Linked DNA regions of Homo sapiens: region 1 is linked to region 2. Evidence: fine-mapped expression QTL. A gene starts in region 2. The other region holds a variant in brackets. All regions are shown on one strand. Distances are between the middles of the regions.

Region 1 (8,332 bases), 72 kb after region 2:
TAGATCAAAGACTTGGTAGCATACATGTTATAAAATTATATATATGTATAAATTTTGTATGTATATACACACAATTATTTTAAAGCAAACAAATTATTATGAAATGTAATACAGCTTACTAGAGATTTTTATCCCACTTTTCTTTGAGGAAATTGTCCATCTAGTCTTTTCTTTGTGCTGCTGTGCTATCCTTTCTTAAGCCTTTGATTTTGATTTTTCGTTAATATTTTTTAAAGAGGCACAACTTAGCCAAAATTCTTAGGAGGACAAGATTCAAAACTCATGTGTTAGTATTTTGATAGCTGTGTCTTTAGAAACCTACTCAACACTTTTATTTTATAGAAGAAGCAACTGGCCTACAGAGGTTAAAAGATTTGATTGGGCATATTGCTGAGAAGAGTCCTAGAATCCGGGTCTTACTCTACTGCACTACTTCTAAATCATTTTGAACTAATTACTGTATTCTAAATAATATGGGAACTTGGAGCCACTCCTTCTGTCTCCCTTCCTTCTTCTCTTTCCTATTGTCCCCATCAAAGCTGATATTTTAAAAGGTTCGGTAATTGGACATAAGTAGTACTAATTCAGGATCAAAAGGGGGAATGGCCTAGTTTTAATTTTTTTCCCCTTAAGAGACAGGGTCTTGCTCTGTCTCCCAGGCTGGAGTGCGGTGGTGTGATCATTGGTCACCATAACCTTGAATTCCTGGGCTCAAACGATCCACCCACCTCAGCCTCCTGAGTAGCTTGGACACTAGGCATTCACTACAGTGCCTGGCTAAGTTTATTTTTATTTTATTATTACTTTTTTAAGAGATGGGGTTTATCTGTGTTTATGGGGTTTATCGAGACCAGCCTGGTCTCGAACTCATGGCCTCAGGTGATCCTCCTGCCTTGACCTCCAAAGTGCTGGGATTACAGGCATGAGCCATAGTGCCTTGCCATGCTAGTTGCATTTTTTATCCTGAATAATTATGTGTAATTCTGTGAAATCAGATAATTGCTCTAGTGTTGTAAGTTTTTTTCTAAGTATAGGGAAAAAGATTATAAAAATGGGCCGGGCGCGGTGGCTCATGCCTGTAATCCCAGCACTTTTGGAGGCTGAGGCAGGTGGATCACAAGGTCAGGATATCGAGACCATCCTGGCTAACACGGTAAAACGCTGTCTCTACTAAAAATACAAAAAAAAAAAAAAAATTAGCAGGGCGTGGTAGCGGGTGCCTGTAGTCCCAGCTACTCTGGAGGCTGAGGAAGGAGAATGGCATGAACCCAGGAGGCGGAGCTTGCAGTGAGCTGAGATCGTGCCACTGCACTCCACCCTAGGTGACAGAGTGAGACTCTGTCTCAAAAAAAAAAAAAAAAAAAAAAAAAATAGGGCCAGGTACAGTGGCTCACACCTGTAATCCCAGCATTTTTGGAAGCCAAGACAAGAGGACCACTTGAGGCCAGGAGTTTAAGTCTAGGCTGGGCAACATAGCAAGAGCTCATCTTTACAAAAGAAAAAAAAATTAACTGGGCGTAGTGGTGCACGCCTGTAGTCCCAGCTACTTGGGAGGCTGAGGCAGAAGGATCACTTGAGCCAGGAGGTCAAAGCTGCAGTGAGTTATGATCATGCCTCTGCATGACAGAGTGGGACCCTATCTTTAAAAAAGTAGAAAGGAGAGAAACCACTGCATTTATGTTAAATATACGTATGGTATAATCAGACAGATGAAATATATACATGAAGGTTTTATTTTTTAATTTTTTTTTTTTTTTTTTTTGAGACAGAGTCTTGCTTGGTCACCAGGCTAGAGTGCAATGGCGCGATCTCGGCTCACTGCAACCTCTGCCTCCTGGGTTCAGGCGATTCTCCTGCCTTAGCCTCCCAAGTAGCTGGGACTACAGGCGCGCACCCAAAATGCCCAGCTAATTTTTGTATTTTTAGTAGAGACAGGGTTTCACCATGTTGGCCAGGATGGTCTCAATCACTTGATCTTGTGACCTGCCTGTCTCGGCCTCCCAAAATGCTGGGATTACAGGCGTAAGCTACCGCACCTGGACTTATTTTTTAATTTTTGAATCAGGGTCTTCCTCTGTCACTCAGGCTGGAGTAGTACACTGGCACAATTATGATTCATTGTAGCCTTGAACTCCTGGACTCAAGTAACCCTTCACCTTCAGTGTCCTAAGTAGCTGGGAGTACAGGTGCATGCCACCATGCCTAGCTAGTTTTTCAATTTTTTTGAGGAGGCAGGGTCTTGCTCTGTTTCCTGGGCTGGCTTTGAGCTCCTGGCTTTGGGCAATCTTCCTGCCTCAGCCTCCCAAAGTACTGGGATTATAAGATGAGCTGCCACGCCCAGTCAATTTAGTATTTTTTAGAATAATACCAACGTTGTACAATTATCACTACTAATTCCAACATCACTGAGTTACTTTTAAGCAAAAATTTTGAGACATTGAGTTCTTCATGGTTTGATCATGGAGCAGCATTTTCTTAATTTACATAGAATTGCCTTTCCTCTGGCCGGGCGCGGTGGCTCACACCTGTAATCCCAGCACTTTGGGAGGCCGAGGCGGGTGGATCACAAGGTCAGGAGATCAAGACCATCTTGGCTAACACAGTGAAACCCTGTCTCTACTAAAAATAGAAAAAATTAGCCAAGCGTGGTGGCGGGTGCCTGTAGTCCCAGCTACTGGGGAGGCTGAGGCGGGAGAATGGCGTGAACCCGGGAGGCGGAGCTTGTAATGAGCCGGGATGGTGCCGCTGCACTCCAGCCTGGGCAACAGAATGCGACTCCATCTCCAAAAAAAAAAAAAAAATTGCCTTTCCTGTATAGTTACTCATTTATTTCTCTCTGTTTTCTCTTTTAAAATAACCAAATTTCTCTGCTATAAATAGGATGGGATCAACTCATGTAGTAAATGGGAGGTTTTTGAGGAAAAAAAATGCAAGACTTTAAAAATCATTGATAAGTTTATTAAAGCCTTTCTCAGCGATTACCTAAAATAAGAACTTTTGAAAAATACTGTTAATACAGCTTTTTTTTTTTTTTTTTGGGAGACAGTGTCTCGCACTGTTGCCGAGGCTGGAGTGCAGTGGTGTTATCTCGGCTCACTGCAACCTCTGCCTCTCAGGTTCAAGCGATTCACCGGCCTCAGCGTCCCGAGTAGTTGGGATTACAGGCGCCCGCCACCACGCCTGGCTAATTTTTTTGTGTTTTTAGTAGAGACGAGGTTTCACTGTGTTGGACAGGGTGATCTCCAACTCTTGGCCTCGTGATCCGTCTGCCTCAGCCTCCCAAAGTGCTGGGAATTACAGGCATGAGCCACCGCGCCCGGGACCGTTAATTCGTCTTTTAATGAGACTTCCTAGTGTTGTTCTTAGTGTTTTTTTTAACCTATAGATGTGTGTTAATTTTTTATATACTACTTAAAAAATGAGATTATAACATTTTAGGATGCTAGCTTTATGTATTCATATTGGAAATAGAGTGGCAAAACAGTTCCCCTGAATCACCAAAATAGATGTAATCAAATCTGAGTAACACTGCATACCAGGATAGAACTCAATTTTTTTTTTTTTTTTTGAGACGGAGTTTTGATCCTGTTGCCCAGGCTGGAGTGCGGTGGCATGATAACAGCTCACTGCAACCTTCGCCTTCCGGGATTCAAGCAATTCTCAGGAGGCTGAAACCTCCTGAGTAGCTGGGATTACAGGCATGCGTCACGACACCCAGCTAATTTTTGTAGTTTTAGTAGAGACCATGTTAGGCTGGTCTTGAACTCCTGACCTCGTGATCCACCTACCTAGGCCTCTCAAAGTGTTGGGATTACAGGCATGAGCCACTGCACCGGCCGTTAGGAGATTTTTTAGCTGTGCCCATGTTAGGCACTAGAAATCGTGGCTCTAAGATTCTAGCATGGTTCACCTGGTCCATGATTCTGTATTTAACAATACCACAGGAGGTCTTAAATTCTGGACTTTTTGAAGACCATGAAAAAGTTCGTTGAGATTAACATAAAGCTTCACCTCTGGCCCCGGTTGTCATAGCCAGGAGTGGATTTAGGAGGTTTAACACTTACTTTGAGACTTCATTTCTCTAAGGACATTTTTTGTTTATTTTGAAATGTTCTGAGTTCTGTATGATTGCTTTCAATCCATGATTTTCAGACTTTATTTCAGCAGTGTAACTTAAATATCTAAAATAGGTGATGGCAATGATGAATGGGTTTCTTTGGTAGCTTTTTTCAGATGAAAGTTTCTAGCTAGCTTTCTGATCATAAAAGCAGTTATTTTCTCTCTCCTCCCTCTTTCTCCTTCCCTTTTCTCCCTCCCCTTTCTCCCTCCCCCGACTTTCCCCTCTTCCCGCTTCCGCCTCCTTCCCCCGCTTCCGCCTCCTTCCCCGCTTCCGCCTCCTTCCCCTGCTTCCGCCTCCTTCCCC[C/TGCTTCCGCCTCCTTCCCCC]GCTTCCGCCTCCTTCCCCCGCTTCTCCGTCCTTCCCCCACTTTCCCCTCCTCCTCCCTTACCCTTTCACCCCCCTTCTCTCCCTCTCTTTCTGTCCTCCCCCATCTCTCTCCTCCTTCTCTTTCACCAGGTCTCACTCTGTCACTCATGATCGAGTGCAGTGGCATGAACATGGCTCATTGCAGCCTAGACCTCCCAAGTTCATGCAATCCTCCCGCCTCAGCCTCCTGAGTATCTGGGACAACAGACACGCACCACCATGCCTGGCTAATTTTTAAAAATTTTTAATAGAGATTGGGTCTCGCCCGTGAGTACGAGGCTAGTCTTGAACTCCTGGGTTCAAGCAGTCAGCCTCCCACAGTGCTGGGATTATAGGTGTGAGCCACTGCACTCAACCTAAAAGCAATCTTTTTTTTTGGAGGCGGAGTCTCGCTCTGTTGCCCAAGCTAGAGTGCATTGGTACAATCTTGACTCACTGCAACCCCCCTCCCCCAAGCGGGTTCAAGTGATTCTTGTGCCTTAGTCTGCTGAGCAGCTGGGATTACAGGCGTGTGCCATCACCCCTGGTTAATTTCTTTTTTTTTTTCTTTGAGATGAAGTCTTGCTTTGTCACCCAGACTGGAGTTCAGTGGCACGATCTCAGCTCACTGCAGCCTCCGTCTCCTGGGTTCAGGCAGTTCTACTGCCTCAGCCTCCCGAGGAGCTGGGACTACAGGTGTGTGCCACCACGCCCAGCTAATTTGTGTATTTTTAATAGAGATGGGGTTTCACCATGTTGTCCAGGATGGTCTTGATCTCCTGACATCATGATCCGCCCACCTCGGCCTCTGAAAGTGCTGGGATTACAGGCGTGAGCCATTGCACACAGCCAGTTTTTGTATTTTTAGTAGAGACGCGGTTTCACCATGTTGGCCAGGCTGGTTTTGAACTCCTGACCTCAAGTGATTCGCCGGCCTTGGCCTCCCAAAGTGCTGGGATTCTAAGTGTGAGCCACCGGGCCTGGCCAAAAGCAGTCTTTTCAGCGTGAATTTTTTTTTTTTTTTTTTTAGATGGAGCCTCATTTTGTCTCCCAGGCTGGAGTGCAGTGGTGCAATCGTGACTCACTGCGACCTCCACCTCCTGGGTTCAAGCAGTTCTCCTGCATCAGCCTCCCAAGTAGCTGGGATTACAGGTGCCTACCATCACACCTGGCTAATTTTTGTATTTTTAGTAGAGACAGGGTTTCAGTATGTTGGCCAGACTGGTCTAGAACTCTTGACCTCAAATGATCTGCCCACCTTGGCCTCCCAAAGTGCTGGGATTACATATGTGAGCCACCATGCCCGGCCTCAGTGTGAAAAATTAAATACAGAATATACAAAATACAGACTTTGAAAGGCCTTTGAACTTCTCTTTTTTCTTCATTCTCTTCTCAAAAAAAGTTGAGATATTTCCAAACGTAAAAATTATGAACATCAGATCATGATCATAAATTTTCTTTCAGAAATGTAACAGGTGTTTTGTCTGTATGTAAGATTCTACCTTATTTTCAGACAGCATTTTAAAGATGTAACCTTAAAAATCACTTGATTAAAGTATACAGTTTATTTTCAGTAGATTTACAGAGTTGTGCAGCCATCATCACTTTCTAATTTTAGAGTATTTCCATCATCCCCCAAAGATCCCTCATGCCTTTTTCACCTTATTATTTTTAAGAGTTAGGACTGGGCGAGGTGGCTCATGCCTGTAATCCCAGCACTTTGGGAGGCCGAGGCGGGTGGATCATGAGGTCAGGAGATCGAGACCATCCTGGCTAACACGGTGAAACCCTGTCTCTACTAAAAATACAAAAAATTAGCCGGGCATGGTGGTGGGCGCCTGTAATCCCGGCTACTCTGGAGGCTGAGGCAGGAGAATGGCGTGAACCCAGGAGGCAGAGCTTGCAGTGATCCGAGATCATGCTCCTGCACTCCAGCCTGAGCGACAGTGCGAGACTCCGTCTAAAAAAAAAAAAAAAATTAGCTGGAATGGTTATGCCATTCATTTAGCCATCAAATTGATGGATGTCAGTTGTTTCTAATTGTGGGTTAATGAGCATCGTTATGCGTATATTTTCCAGTACTAGTATGATTAGTTCCTTAGAACAAAAAGCTAGAATTGCTGGGTCAAAGGCAATGTGTATTTTAAATATTGAAGGATATTGCCAAATAGCCTTCCAAAAAGTTCATACGAACTTATACTCACCAACAATGGATAACTGTGCTTTTAGGCAGTTGAAATCTTATGCAATGGAAGCACGTGTAACTCTTCAGTATACCTCTAGGGAATTCCAAAGCAGTTTCAAAAATCATGAAAAAGTTTGTTGAGAAACTTTTCAAAACAAAAACCACTTAACTATCATGTATTTTTATCAGAATTACCTTGAGTTTTATTTTAAACCTTTTTTTTTTTTTTTGAGACAGTTTTGCTCTGTCACCCAGGATGGAGTGTAATGGCGTGATTTCAGCTCACTGCAACCTCTGCCTCCCAGGTTCAAGCCATTCTCATGCCTCAGCCTCCTGAGTATTACAAGTGCCCACCACCACACTGACAATTTTTTTATTTTTCGTAGAGACAAGGTTTTACCATGTTGGTCAGGCTGATCTTGATCTCCTGACCTCAGGTGATCCACCCGCCTCGGCCTCCCAAAGTGCTGGGATTTTTTTTTTTTTTTTTTTTTTTTTTGAGACGGAGTCTCGTTCTGTCGCCCAGGCGGGAGTGCTGTGGCGCGATCTCCGCTCACTGCAAGCTCCGCCTTCCGGGTTCACGCCATTCTCCTGCCTCAGCCTCCCGAGTAGCTGGGACTACAGGCGCCCGCCACTGCGCCCGGCTAATTTTTTGTATTTTTAGTAGAGACGGGGTTTCACCGTGGTCTCGATCTCCTGACCTCGTGATCCGCCCGCCTCGGCCTCCCAAAGTGCTGGGATTACAGGCGTGAGCCACCGCGTCCGGCCGGGATTTTAAACATTGATTTTTTTAAGGCAAGATTACTTAATGTTTAATAAGGCAAAATAGTGTGTAGTATGTACTGTGGAATGGCTTCTACTTAAAGGAGGACTAAAATACACCTTAGAGCTGAATCCTATTAGCTTCAGTTAGGAGTATCACTGCTTATCAGGAGTAATTGCAAAATAATCTGTTTATTCGGTTTTTATAAAATCAGTCTTTTATAGAATTGTATTTTTTAAAGGTTAGTAGTTGTAACCTAATTTTACTTGCTTTTTTTTTTTTAATTAGGATATATCAACTCAAGAAAGTAACATATTAGGGGCATTCTGTGATATGAATGTAAGTGTTTACCTTTTTTATTCTTTTATGGAAAATTTTATTTTTTTAACAAAGCCTCATCCATATGTTTTATTATTTATATATGTCTTTTGAGTTTCTCATCAGTATCTTTCCAGTATTGCTAAGATAAAAATTATTTGTACGTTTTCAAATAATGACATGTTTTCTTTATTTTCCCAGGATGTAGAAGTACCATTGCATTTGCTTCGTTATGTATGTTTGTTTTGTGGGAAAAATGGCCTTTCTCTCATGAAGGATTGCTTTGAATATGGAACTCCTGAAACTTTGCCATTTCTTATAGCACATGCGTTTATTACAGTTGTGTCTAATGTAAGTATTGTTTTGAATTGATCTTAATTTTGGGAGCAATGTCTAGCATATCAGTAACATGAATTTTATGCTCTGAAAAGGAAGGTTTTGAATGATTTGCATGTGTAATTTTTTTTTATTTTGACAAAATGAGTACAGAAACGTTTTAACGATCTTTATTATTAAGATTAGAATTTGAATAAAATTAAGTTACCTGTTTTAAAGCTAAAAGGGGTCATGACTATCTATAATTATCTATTTTATCTAAGATAGGTGACTGCATAAAACTTTTGC
Region 2 (8,332 bases):
CCTCTCAAAGTTCTGGGAATACAGGTGTAGGCCACCATGCCCAGCCAAGAAAAATACATTTTATTTTTCTCACATAAGCAGTCTGAGCATAGACTGTTGTTCAAAGATGCATCAGGGATCCACACTTTATGATTCTGTTTTATCATTTTTTTTCGAGATGGAATTTTTTTTGCTCTTGTTGCCCAGGCTGGAGTGCAATGGCAGAATCTCGGCTCACTGCAACCTCCACCCCCGGGTTCAAGCAATTCTCCAGCCTCAGCCTCCCGAGTAGCTGGGATTACAAAGTGCCCGCCACCACACCCGGCTCATTTTTTATATTTTTAGAAGAGATGGGGTTTCAGCATGTAGGTAAGGCTGGTCTTGAACTCTGACCTCAGGTGATCCACCTGCCTCAGCCTCCCAAAGTGTTGGGATTACAGGCGTGAGCCACTGTGCCCGGCCTGTTTAATCAAATTTTTTAAACAATGAAATCGCAAATGGGGTAAAAGTTTTCATTGTTAAAAAAATTACAAGATGGGTATTACTTTGTGCATCAAGACCATGTTTCAGGCAGAAAGGGTTAAATGGTATGTTAGCTGAATTTGTCCCTCATCGTATTAGGAATTCTTTTGGGAATTCTTCCCAAAGAACCCATCCTGCAGATTTCTGCTTACATTTCTTTTTTTTTCCAGAGAGGGTCTCACTCTGTCACCCAGGCTAGACTGCAGTGGTATGACCACAGCTCACTGCAGTCTCAATCTCCTGGGCTCTAGTGATCCTCCCACCTCAGCCTCCCCAGTAGCTGGGATTACAGGTGTGCACCACCACATTCCACTAATTTTCTTATGTACTGGAGATGGACTTTTGCCATGTTGCCCAGGTTGATGTAGAACTCCCAGGCTCAAGCAATCCATCTGCCTTGGACTCTCAAAGTACTATGATTATAGTCGTGAGCCACCACGACCAGGTAATTTTTTTTTTTTTTTTTTGAGACGGAGTCTTGCTGTGTCGCCCAGGCTGGAGTGCAGTGGCGCGATCTCAGCTCACTGCAAGCTTTGCTCCCTGGGTTCATGCCATTCTCCTGCCTCAGCCTCCCAAGTAGCTGGGACTACAGGCGCCCACCACCATGCCTGGCTAATTTTTTGTATTTTTAGTAGAGACGGGGTTTCACCGTGTTAGCCAGGATGGTCTCAATCTCCTGATTTAGTGATCTTCTCGCCTCGGCCTCCCAAAGCGCTGGGATTACAGGCATGAACCACCATGCCTGGCCTTTTTTTTTTTTTTTTTTTATGAGACGGAGTTTCACTCTTATCCCAGGCTGGAGTGCAATGGCGCGATCTCGGCTCACCGCAACCCCTGCCTCCCGGGTTCAAGCGATTCTCCTGCCTCAGCCTCCTGAGTAGCTGGGATTACAGGCATGCACCACCATGCCTAATTTTGTATTTTTAGCAGAGATGAGCTTTGTCCATGTTGGTCAGGCCGGTCTAGAGCTCCCGACCTCAGGTGATTTGCTCACCTCAGCCTCCCTAAGTGCGGGATTTCAGGAGTGAGCCAACGCGCCCAGCCACCTTTTAAATTTTTGTAGACACAGGGCTCCCACTATGTTTCTCAGGATTGTTGCTTACCTTTTATCAGGAGGAACTCAATTATGTATGGCCAGCCCTAGAAAAGCCAGATCACCATGATGGTTGGTTTCAACTGCTACCTGAAAAAACGTGAGACCAGCACGTTGGCTCATACCTGTAATCCTAACATTTTGGGCCGGAGGATCAGTTGAGGCCAGGAGTTTGAGACCAGCCTGGGTAACATAGCAAGACCCTGTCCCTACTAAAAATAAAAAACAATTAGTTACGTGTGGTGGAGAGCGCCTGTAGCCCCAGCTACTAGGGAAGTGGGAGGATCCCTTGAGCCCATAAAGTGGAGGCTGTAGTGAACTGTGATCGCACCACTGCACTCTAACCTTGGCGACAGAGTGAGACTTTGTCTCAAAAAAAAAAAATTCAAATAAAAATAATTGGGGTTGTGTTGGCAGGGAAAAAAGGGATACGTGGGAATGTATGTTGAGTGGACAACGAATGTCTGCCTCAGGATCCAAAGTAAGTCTGCAAAAACCCAATTCTGTGAGAAAGACAAGGAAGAAGGGAAGATGATGGTAGAATAGAACTACAATCCTAAGGATCACCTGCTAGTGGGAAACAAAACGGGTTGGGCAGACTGTTTATAGTATCAACTTCAAGCAGCAGAAAGGCAAAGCATTTGGAACCAGGTGGTTCTGGCATGGAGAGATGGGCGTGCCATAACCTCCACAAAAGCTATCGAGAGAATGACTACAGAGCCTTGACAGACACTCTGGTTACCGTTCAGAGATTCTGTACACGATCTTTCGGACTTTGCAGTCACATGTCTATGTAAACACGTTGAACACAAAAATTAGCAAGCAAGGGGTAAGTGCCGGCGTGAGGAAAATTCCCTTACAAGCTTCAGCTGACTGCCCCCTTCACCTGTTCTTTATCTTAATATCCTTGTTATTCGCTCTCTGCTGAAGAAGATTTCTTGCTATTTCAGGTGGGGCTGATGGGCACATCGTGAGGGGCCCTCTTCCGTAAAAACGAGACGATGTCAGGCAAACACTCCTTACCCTGCCATTTCTAGTTACGTCAAGGATCTTACTGCTCCAGGACGGAGGACCTTCAAGGAACTGCAGGGTAGCGATAATCACCGATGCAGTTAAGCCGGGCCCTGGGCTGATTCACTCTCAGACCCCGGGGGGAGTGGCCCTTGCGCCCGAAAGAGGGCTACGGCGTAGACCCGGCCCGGCACCCAAGTTGACTCCTTGCTTCCCGTACCCCAAAAGCCTAAGCGCGGAAGAGGCCGGGGACACCAAAGAAACCCGCACCAACTCCCCGACCCAGGCCCTGGGGAAAAATGGCGAAGCCCAGGGGCGGGGGACAGGACGGAGCGAGTGACCTGGCGCTCCCCGGGCCTCAGAGCCCGTGGAGTGGGTCGTGGTGGGCGACGCCACGCAACCGCGACCCGTCCGTTGCCTCCGCCATCTTCTCCTACTCACCCGGACTCCCCCCGCGGCCGCGCTGGCTTCGCGTTTCCCTTCCGGCCGCTGACAGAGATCCGGGCTGGGCGGGGTGGGCGAGCGCGCGGAGGGGGTGGACCGAGGGCGGGGAGGCCGGACGGAAGAGGAAAGGGAGGGCGGCGAGCCGGCCACGGCGGGGTGTGGAGCGTGCGGCGTGTGTGCGGAGGGAGAGGTGGGGGGCGGAGGAGAGGCGAGAAAGGGAGGGAGGCGGAGGAATGAGAGCGCGAGGCGCCTCTCGTCCGCTCCTAAGCCCGGGCGGAAAGAGCCGAGCGCAGCCCGAGCGCTCTGTTAAAATGGCGGCGGCGTCGGCGGTGGCCGCGGCGTCTGGTCGGTGAAGTGACTCTGCTGCTTCTCTCCCCACCCGCCCCCTCCCCCCCTCTCCCCTCCCCCCGTCCTTCCCCCCCTTCCCCGCCGCCGGCGCCTCGGCGCCCCTCCGGCCTGCGCACCTCCCCTCGCTCCCCTCCTCTCCCCCTCCCGCTGCGGGGACCGCCGGCCCCCTCCCCCATTCTCTTGCTCCCCGCCCCGTCCCCGCCGCCGCCCGCCCTAGTCGCCTCCCCGCCCCGCCGGCCGGCCGGCCCCCTCCTCCGCCTCTCTCCCCTCCCCCCCGCCGGTCGGGATCAGTCAGTGTGATCCGAAGCGGGGGAGGGGGGGGGCGGCGGCCGAACGATGTGCGAGAACTGCGCAGACCTGGTGGAGGTGTTAAATGAAAGTAAGTAGCCGCGGTAGCGGCCTGTCGGGGTGCACGGTTTGGGGTCCTCGCGCAGCTCTCTGGCCTCCCCGGGCTGCCGCGGCCTGCGGGAGGCGACGGCCGGGCCGGGCGGCGTGCGGGCCTAGCGCCCCGGGAAGGTGCGCGGTGGCGCGGCCGCCGCGGCGCCTCGGGCCCAGCCCGGCCGGGTTACCTGGGCGCCCGAGAGGCGGCCGCCGCGGAGCTCCGGCTCGGCCTGGCCCGGGCGCTCTGGGCTCTCGGAAAGTTTCCTCATTACAGGTGTCAATTAATGAAGGCAGTAATGAACCCCTCGCCGCCTTCGCCTCCTTCGCCCTGCCGGGAAGGTGCGGGGAGGTGGGGTCGGAGGACGAGGCTTTCCTCCGCAGTCCAAATCCTCCGGCCGCCCTCTTTGATTTCCAGCGTGCTGCCGAGGCCTCTCTTACCTGCTAATTTTCATTAAACTCCCGGGAGCAGGGTGGTGGTTTTTCCCTCCCTTGCGGGTTTGTGGGTGTCTTAAACACTTCAGCCAGACCTTAAATAGCTGAAAACGAACTGTGATAGTGATGATTGGAACCTTCATACCTATTTTTAAAATAAATTTGTTAATGATGTTTCTTAGTGTAGCATTCACCGCTTTAATGGTACATTCTGTTAAGCAGAGCACTGTACTACACATACCATCCCGGGATAGTTATGGCCTATCTCTCTTGGAAGGAAAGGCCTTTTACCTGGTACTTTACTTTTTATTATTAAAAAGGGTACGTTGATCTTTTCTGGCCTTTTTATTTTATTCTCGACCCTTGCAAGATGGTATTTCAGCTTATAGAAGATATATTGCAAATCAACTACTTCTGGGCGTAAAGGCCTAGTTGGCAGAGGTGAATTAGATGAAGGGATCAATTTACAAAAAGTTGATTGTTGAAAAAATGCTCACTTATGAACAGTTTATGTGGGTTTTGGATTTGTATTCTGTTTGTGATATTTCCACAGACTTTCAGACTATCTAATTTTGTAATACAATTCGCTAAAACAGTTGATTTATAAAATGTACCATGGTATTTGTGTTTGACTGTCACTTTAATGACCAAAGACAATAATAAAAGTGGAAGGGTTCTAACTTAATTTCAACTCCGTATTTACTTCCTGATAGGTGGAATAGGCTTTTGCACATATTCCAACTAGAGGTTCCAGTATTTGTGTCACCCTAAATTATCCTAGAATTTTAAGATTATTTGTGTGTATTTTGAGATACTTTTATTTCTGGCGCAGGCGGTTTACGATATGATAAACTTAAATCCTCAATACTTACTGTGTTTTATATCTCACATACAAGTCGTGTGATTATGATTGTTACGCTCAACTTGGAAAGTTAATCGTTTTGCAATGTAATATGAGGAACAAGTACTTAATTTTGTTGGTGATTTTAAATATCTTTTTTTTTTCTTGAGACAGAGTTTTGCTCTTGTTGCCCAAGCTGGAGGGCAATGGCATGATCTCGGCTCACTGCAAACTCTGCCTCCCAGGTTCAAGCGATTCTCCTGCCTCAGCCTCCCAAGTAGCTGGAAATGTAGGTTCCCCACACCATGCCCGGCTGATTTTTGTATTTTTGGTAGAGACGGGGTTTCACCATGTTGGTCAGGCTGGTCTTGAGCTCCTGACCTTGTGATCCGCCTGCCTCGGCCTCCCAAAGTGCTGGGATTACAGGCGTGAGCCACTGCGCCTGGCTGATTTTAAAATATCTTAAACTTGGAAAATTTTAAACAAAACATCTAAAGAAAGTAAAGTTGGTTTATCTTTTGAAAAGAGGTGGCATCTTGATCATAATGAAAGGTCTTATTTAAGATTATCTGGGAAACCCCTAGAACTTTGGTTAGAAGCACTGAAAAATGCAGTGCATTTATGGAGTGTTAGAAATGTGGAGAATTGAAATAGAATTTAGCTTTTATTACCTTTAAGCAAATACAGTTAGTTCAACCAGCTTCTCAAAATCTGGTCATGTGCACCCTCTAAGAAACCTGTTCTAATGAACAAGTAAGGATTTTCTATTTGTGTGTAAGCCAGTGGACTCTAAAAATACTTAGTTTCTTAATATTGCCTTTGAGGCTCAATTTAAAAGTTTAACTCTTAAACAATAATCTCACAGTGATGCTTCCTTTTTAAAAAAATTTACGGCCAGGCGCAGTGGCTCACGCCTGTAATCCCAACACTTTGCGAGGCCAAGGTTGGCGGATCACCTGAGGTTGGGAGTTCAAGACCAGCCTGACTAACATGGAGAAACCCCGTCTCTACTCAAAATACAAAATTAGCTGAGCGTGGTGGCACATGCTTGTAATCCCAGCTACTGGGGAGGCTGACCAGGAGAATTGCTTGAACCCGGAGGCGGAGGTTGCAGTGAGCCGAGATTGTGCCATTGCACTCCAGCCTGGGCAACAAGAGCGAAACTTTGTCTCAAAAAACATTTTTTTTACTTCAACAATTACATGTGTAGTTTATACCACACTATTAAAAGTTGTTTTTTTTTCTGTAGTTCTTTGCTTATCCGTGGCTATGATGGAGCATGATAATGAACATGAGTGGTTGGAGCTTGATAAAACTTGTTGAAGTAGATTATATGTGTTTCTTGTGATCTCATTTGCAGTAATTACCTATAAAGTCTGCCCTTTTCCCGCCTGTACCTTGTACAAAGATGAGCATCAGTTCAACGTTGATTTAGAAATTCAGAGTTGGCCGGGCAACTCTGAATACAGCTCACGCCTGTATTCCCAACACTTTGGGAGGCCGAGGTGGGCGGATCACAAGGTCAGGAGCTCGAGACCAGCCTGGCCAATATGGTGAAACCCCATCTCTACTAAAAATTCACCAATTAGCCGGGTGTGGTGGTGTAGGCATCTGTAGTCCCAGCTACTTGGGAGGCTGAGGCAGGAGAATTGCTTGAACCCTGGTAGGCGGAGGTTGCAGTGAGCCGAGATCATGCCACTGCACTCCAGCCTCGGCCACAGAACAAGACTCCATCTCAAAAAAAAAAAAAAAAAAAACAAAGTTACAGTCCTCCCAAAATGTGCTCAGAATTCATCTTTAAATACGACACCCTGTAACAGTTTAGCCAGCTGAGAGAAGCAATAAAATTGTGCATATTTTTGGGTGGTGTGTTTCCAGGTCATGCTGAAAAATACGTAATTAGTATTAAAGCAACCTCACAAAACAGTCAGACGTGGTGGTGCGCCCCTGTAATCCCGCCTCGGCAGGAGGCTGAGGCAGGAGGATTGTTTGAGGCCAGGAGTTCGAGACCAGCGTGGGCAACATAGTAAGACTGCTTTTTTTATTATTATTATTTTTTTATTTTTTATTTGGAGACAGAATCTCGCTGTGTCACCCAGGCTGGAGTGCAGTGGCACGGTTTCGGCTCACTACAACCTCTGCCTCCCTGGGTTCAGCAATTCTCCTGCCTCAGCCTCCCAAGTGGCTGGGATTACAGGCACACGTCACCATGCCCAGCTAATTTTTGTATTTTTAGTAGAAACGGGGTTTCACCATATTGGCCAGGCTGGTCTGAACTCCTTACCGTGTGATCTACCCGCTTCCGTCTCCCAAAATGCTAGGATTACAGGCGTGAGCCACCGCGCCTGGCCAAGACTGCTGTCTTGAAAAAACAAACCAAAAACACTGTTTCTTGTGAAATTAACAAACAGTGATCACACTTAGAGAAGGCTACCTGGGCAAACGAGTGTAATAAATTTTTTTTTTTTTTTTTGACACGGAGTCTAACTCTCACCCAGGCTGGAATGCAGTGTCGGCTAGCTGCAACCTCCACCTCCCGGATTCAAGTGATTCTTCTGCCTCAGCCTCCTGAGTAACTGAGACTACAGGCACCCGCCTCCTTGCCTGGCTAATTTTTGTATTTTTAGTAGAGGTGGGATTTTGCCATGTTGGCCAGGCTTGTCTCAAACTCCTGACCTCAGGGGATCTGCCTGCCTGTACCTCCCAAAGTGCTGCAATTACAGGAGTGAGCCAGCATGCCTGGCCTAAAAATTTTGTTTAAAAAATTTTTAGTTGATAAATAATAATTTTACATATTCATGGTGTACATAGTGATGTTTCAATACATAAAACGTATAGTGATCAGTTGAAGTTAATTAGTATATCCATCTCAAACATTTAGCATTTGCTTTGGGAACATTCAGTATCCTCCTAGCTATTTGAAACTGTATCATATATTATTGTTTTTTTGAGATAGGGTTTCTTTCCCATTGCCCAGGCTGGAGTGCAGTGGTATGCTCTTGGGTCACTACAGCCTCCGCTTCCTGGGCTTAAGCAATCCTCCTGCCACATCCTCCCAAGTAGCTGGGACTACAGGCATGTGCCACCAAGCCCGGCTAATTTTTGTATTTTTAGTAGAGATGGGGTTTCACCACGTTGGCCAGGCTGGTCTTGAACTCTTGAACTCAAGTGATCTGCCCGCCTTGGCCTCCCAAAGTGCTGGGATTATAGGCATGAGCCACCATGCCCGGCTTGTATCATATATTATTGTTAACCGTAGTCATTCTGTAGTAGTACTTATT

Evidence for each region.
Region 1: its variant is fine-mapped to the expression of USP34-DT in whole blood (INTERVAL, PIP 0.99).

What each region holds. Positions count from the first base shown.
Region 1 is chr2:61,394,580-61,402,911 of GRCh38, reverse strand. USP34 (ubiquitin specific peptidase 34) reads left to right here. Exons shown (of 80, transcript NM_014709.4): 4 at 7,679-7,729; 5 at 7,910-8,059. Among named protein-coding and RNA genes, the nearest start is that of SNORA70B, 19 kb to the left of the region's middle. The variant C/TGCTTCCGCCTCCTTCCCCC (reference allele first, on the strand shown) is at 4,424.
Region 2 is chr2:61,466,094-61,474,425 of GRCh38, reverse strand. It overlaps USP34-DT (USP34 divergent transcript), which reads right to left and starts at 3,330. Exons shown (of 3, transcript NR_185882.1): 1 at 3,047-3,330. USP34 (ubiquitin specific peptidase 34) reads left to right here and starts at 3,339. Exons shown (of 80, transcript NM_014709.4): 1 at 3,339-3,776. The coding sequence starts at 3,734. RefSeq lists silencers at 3,088-3,397, 3,428-3,507, 3,598-4,017 and enhancers at 7,061-7,560, 8,089-8,332.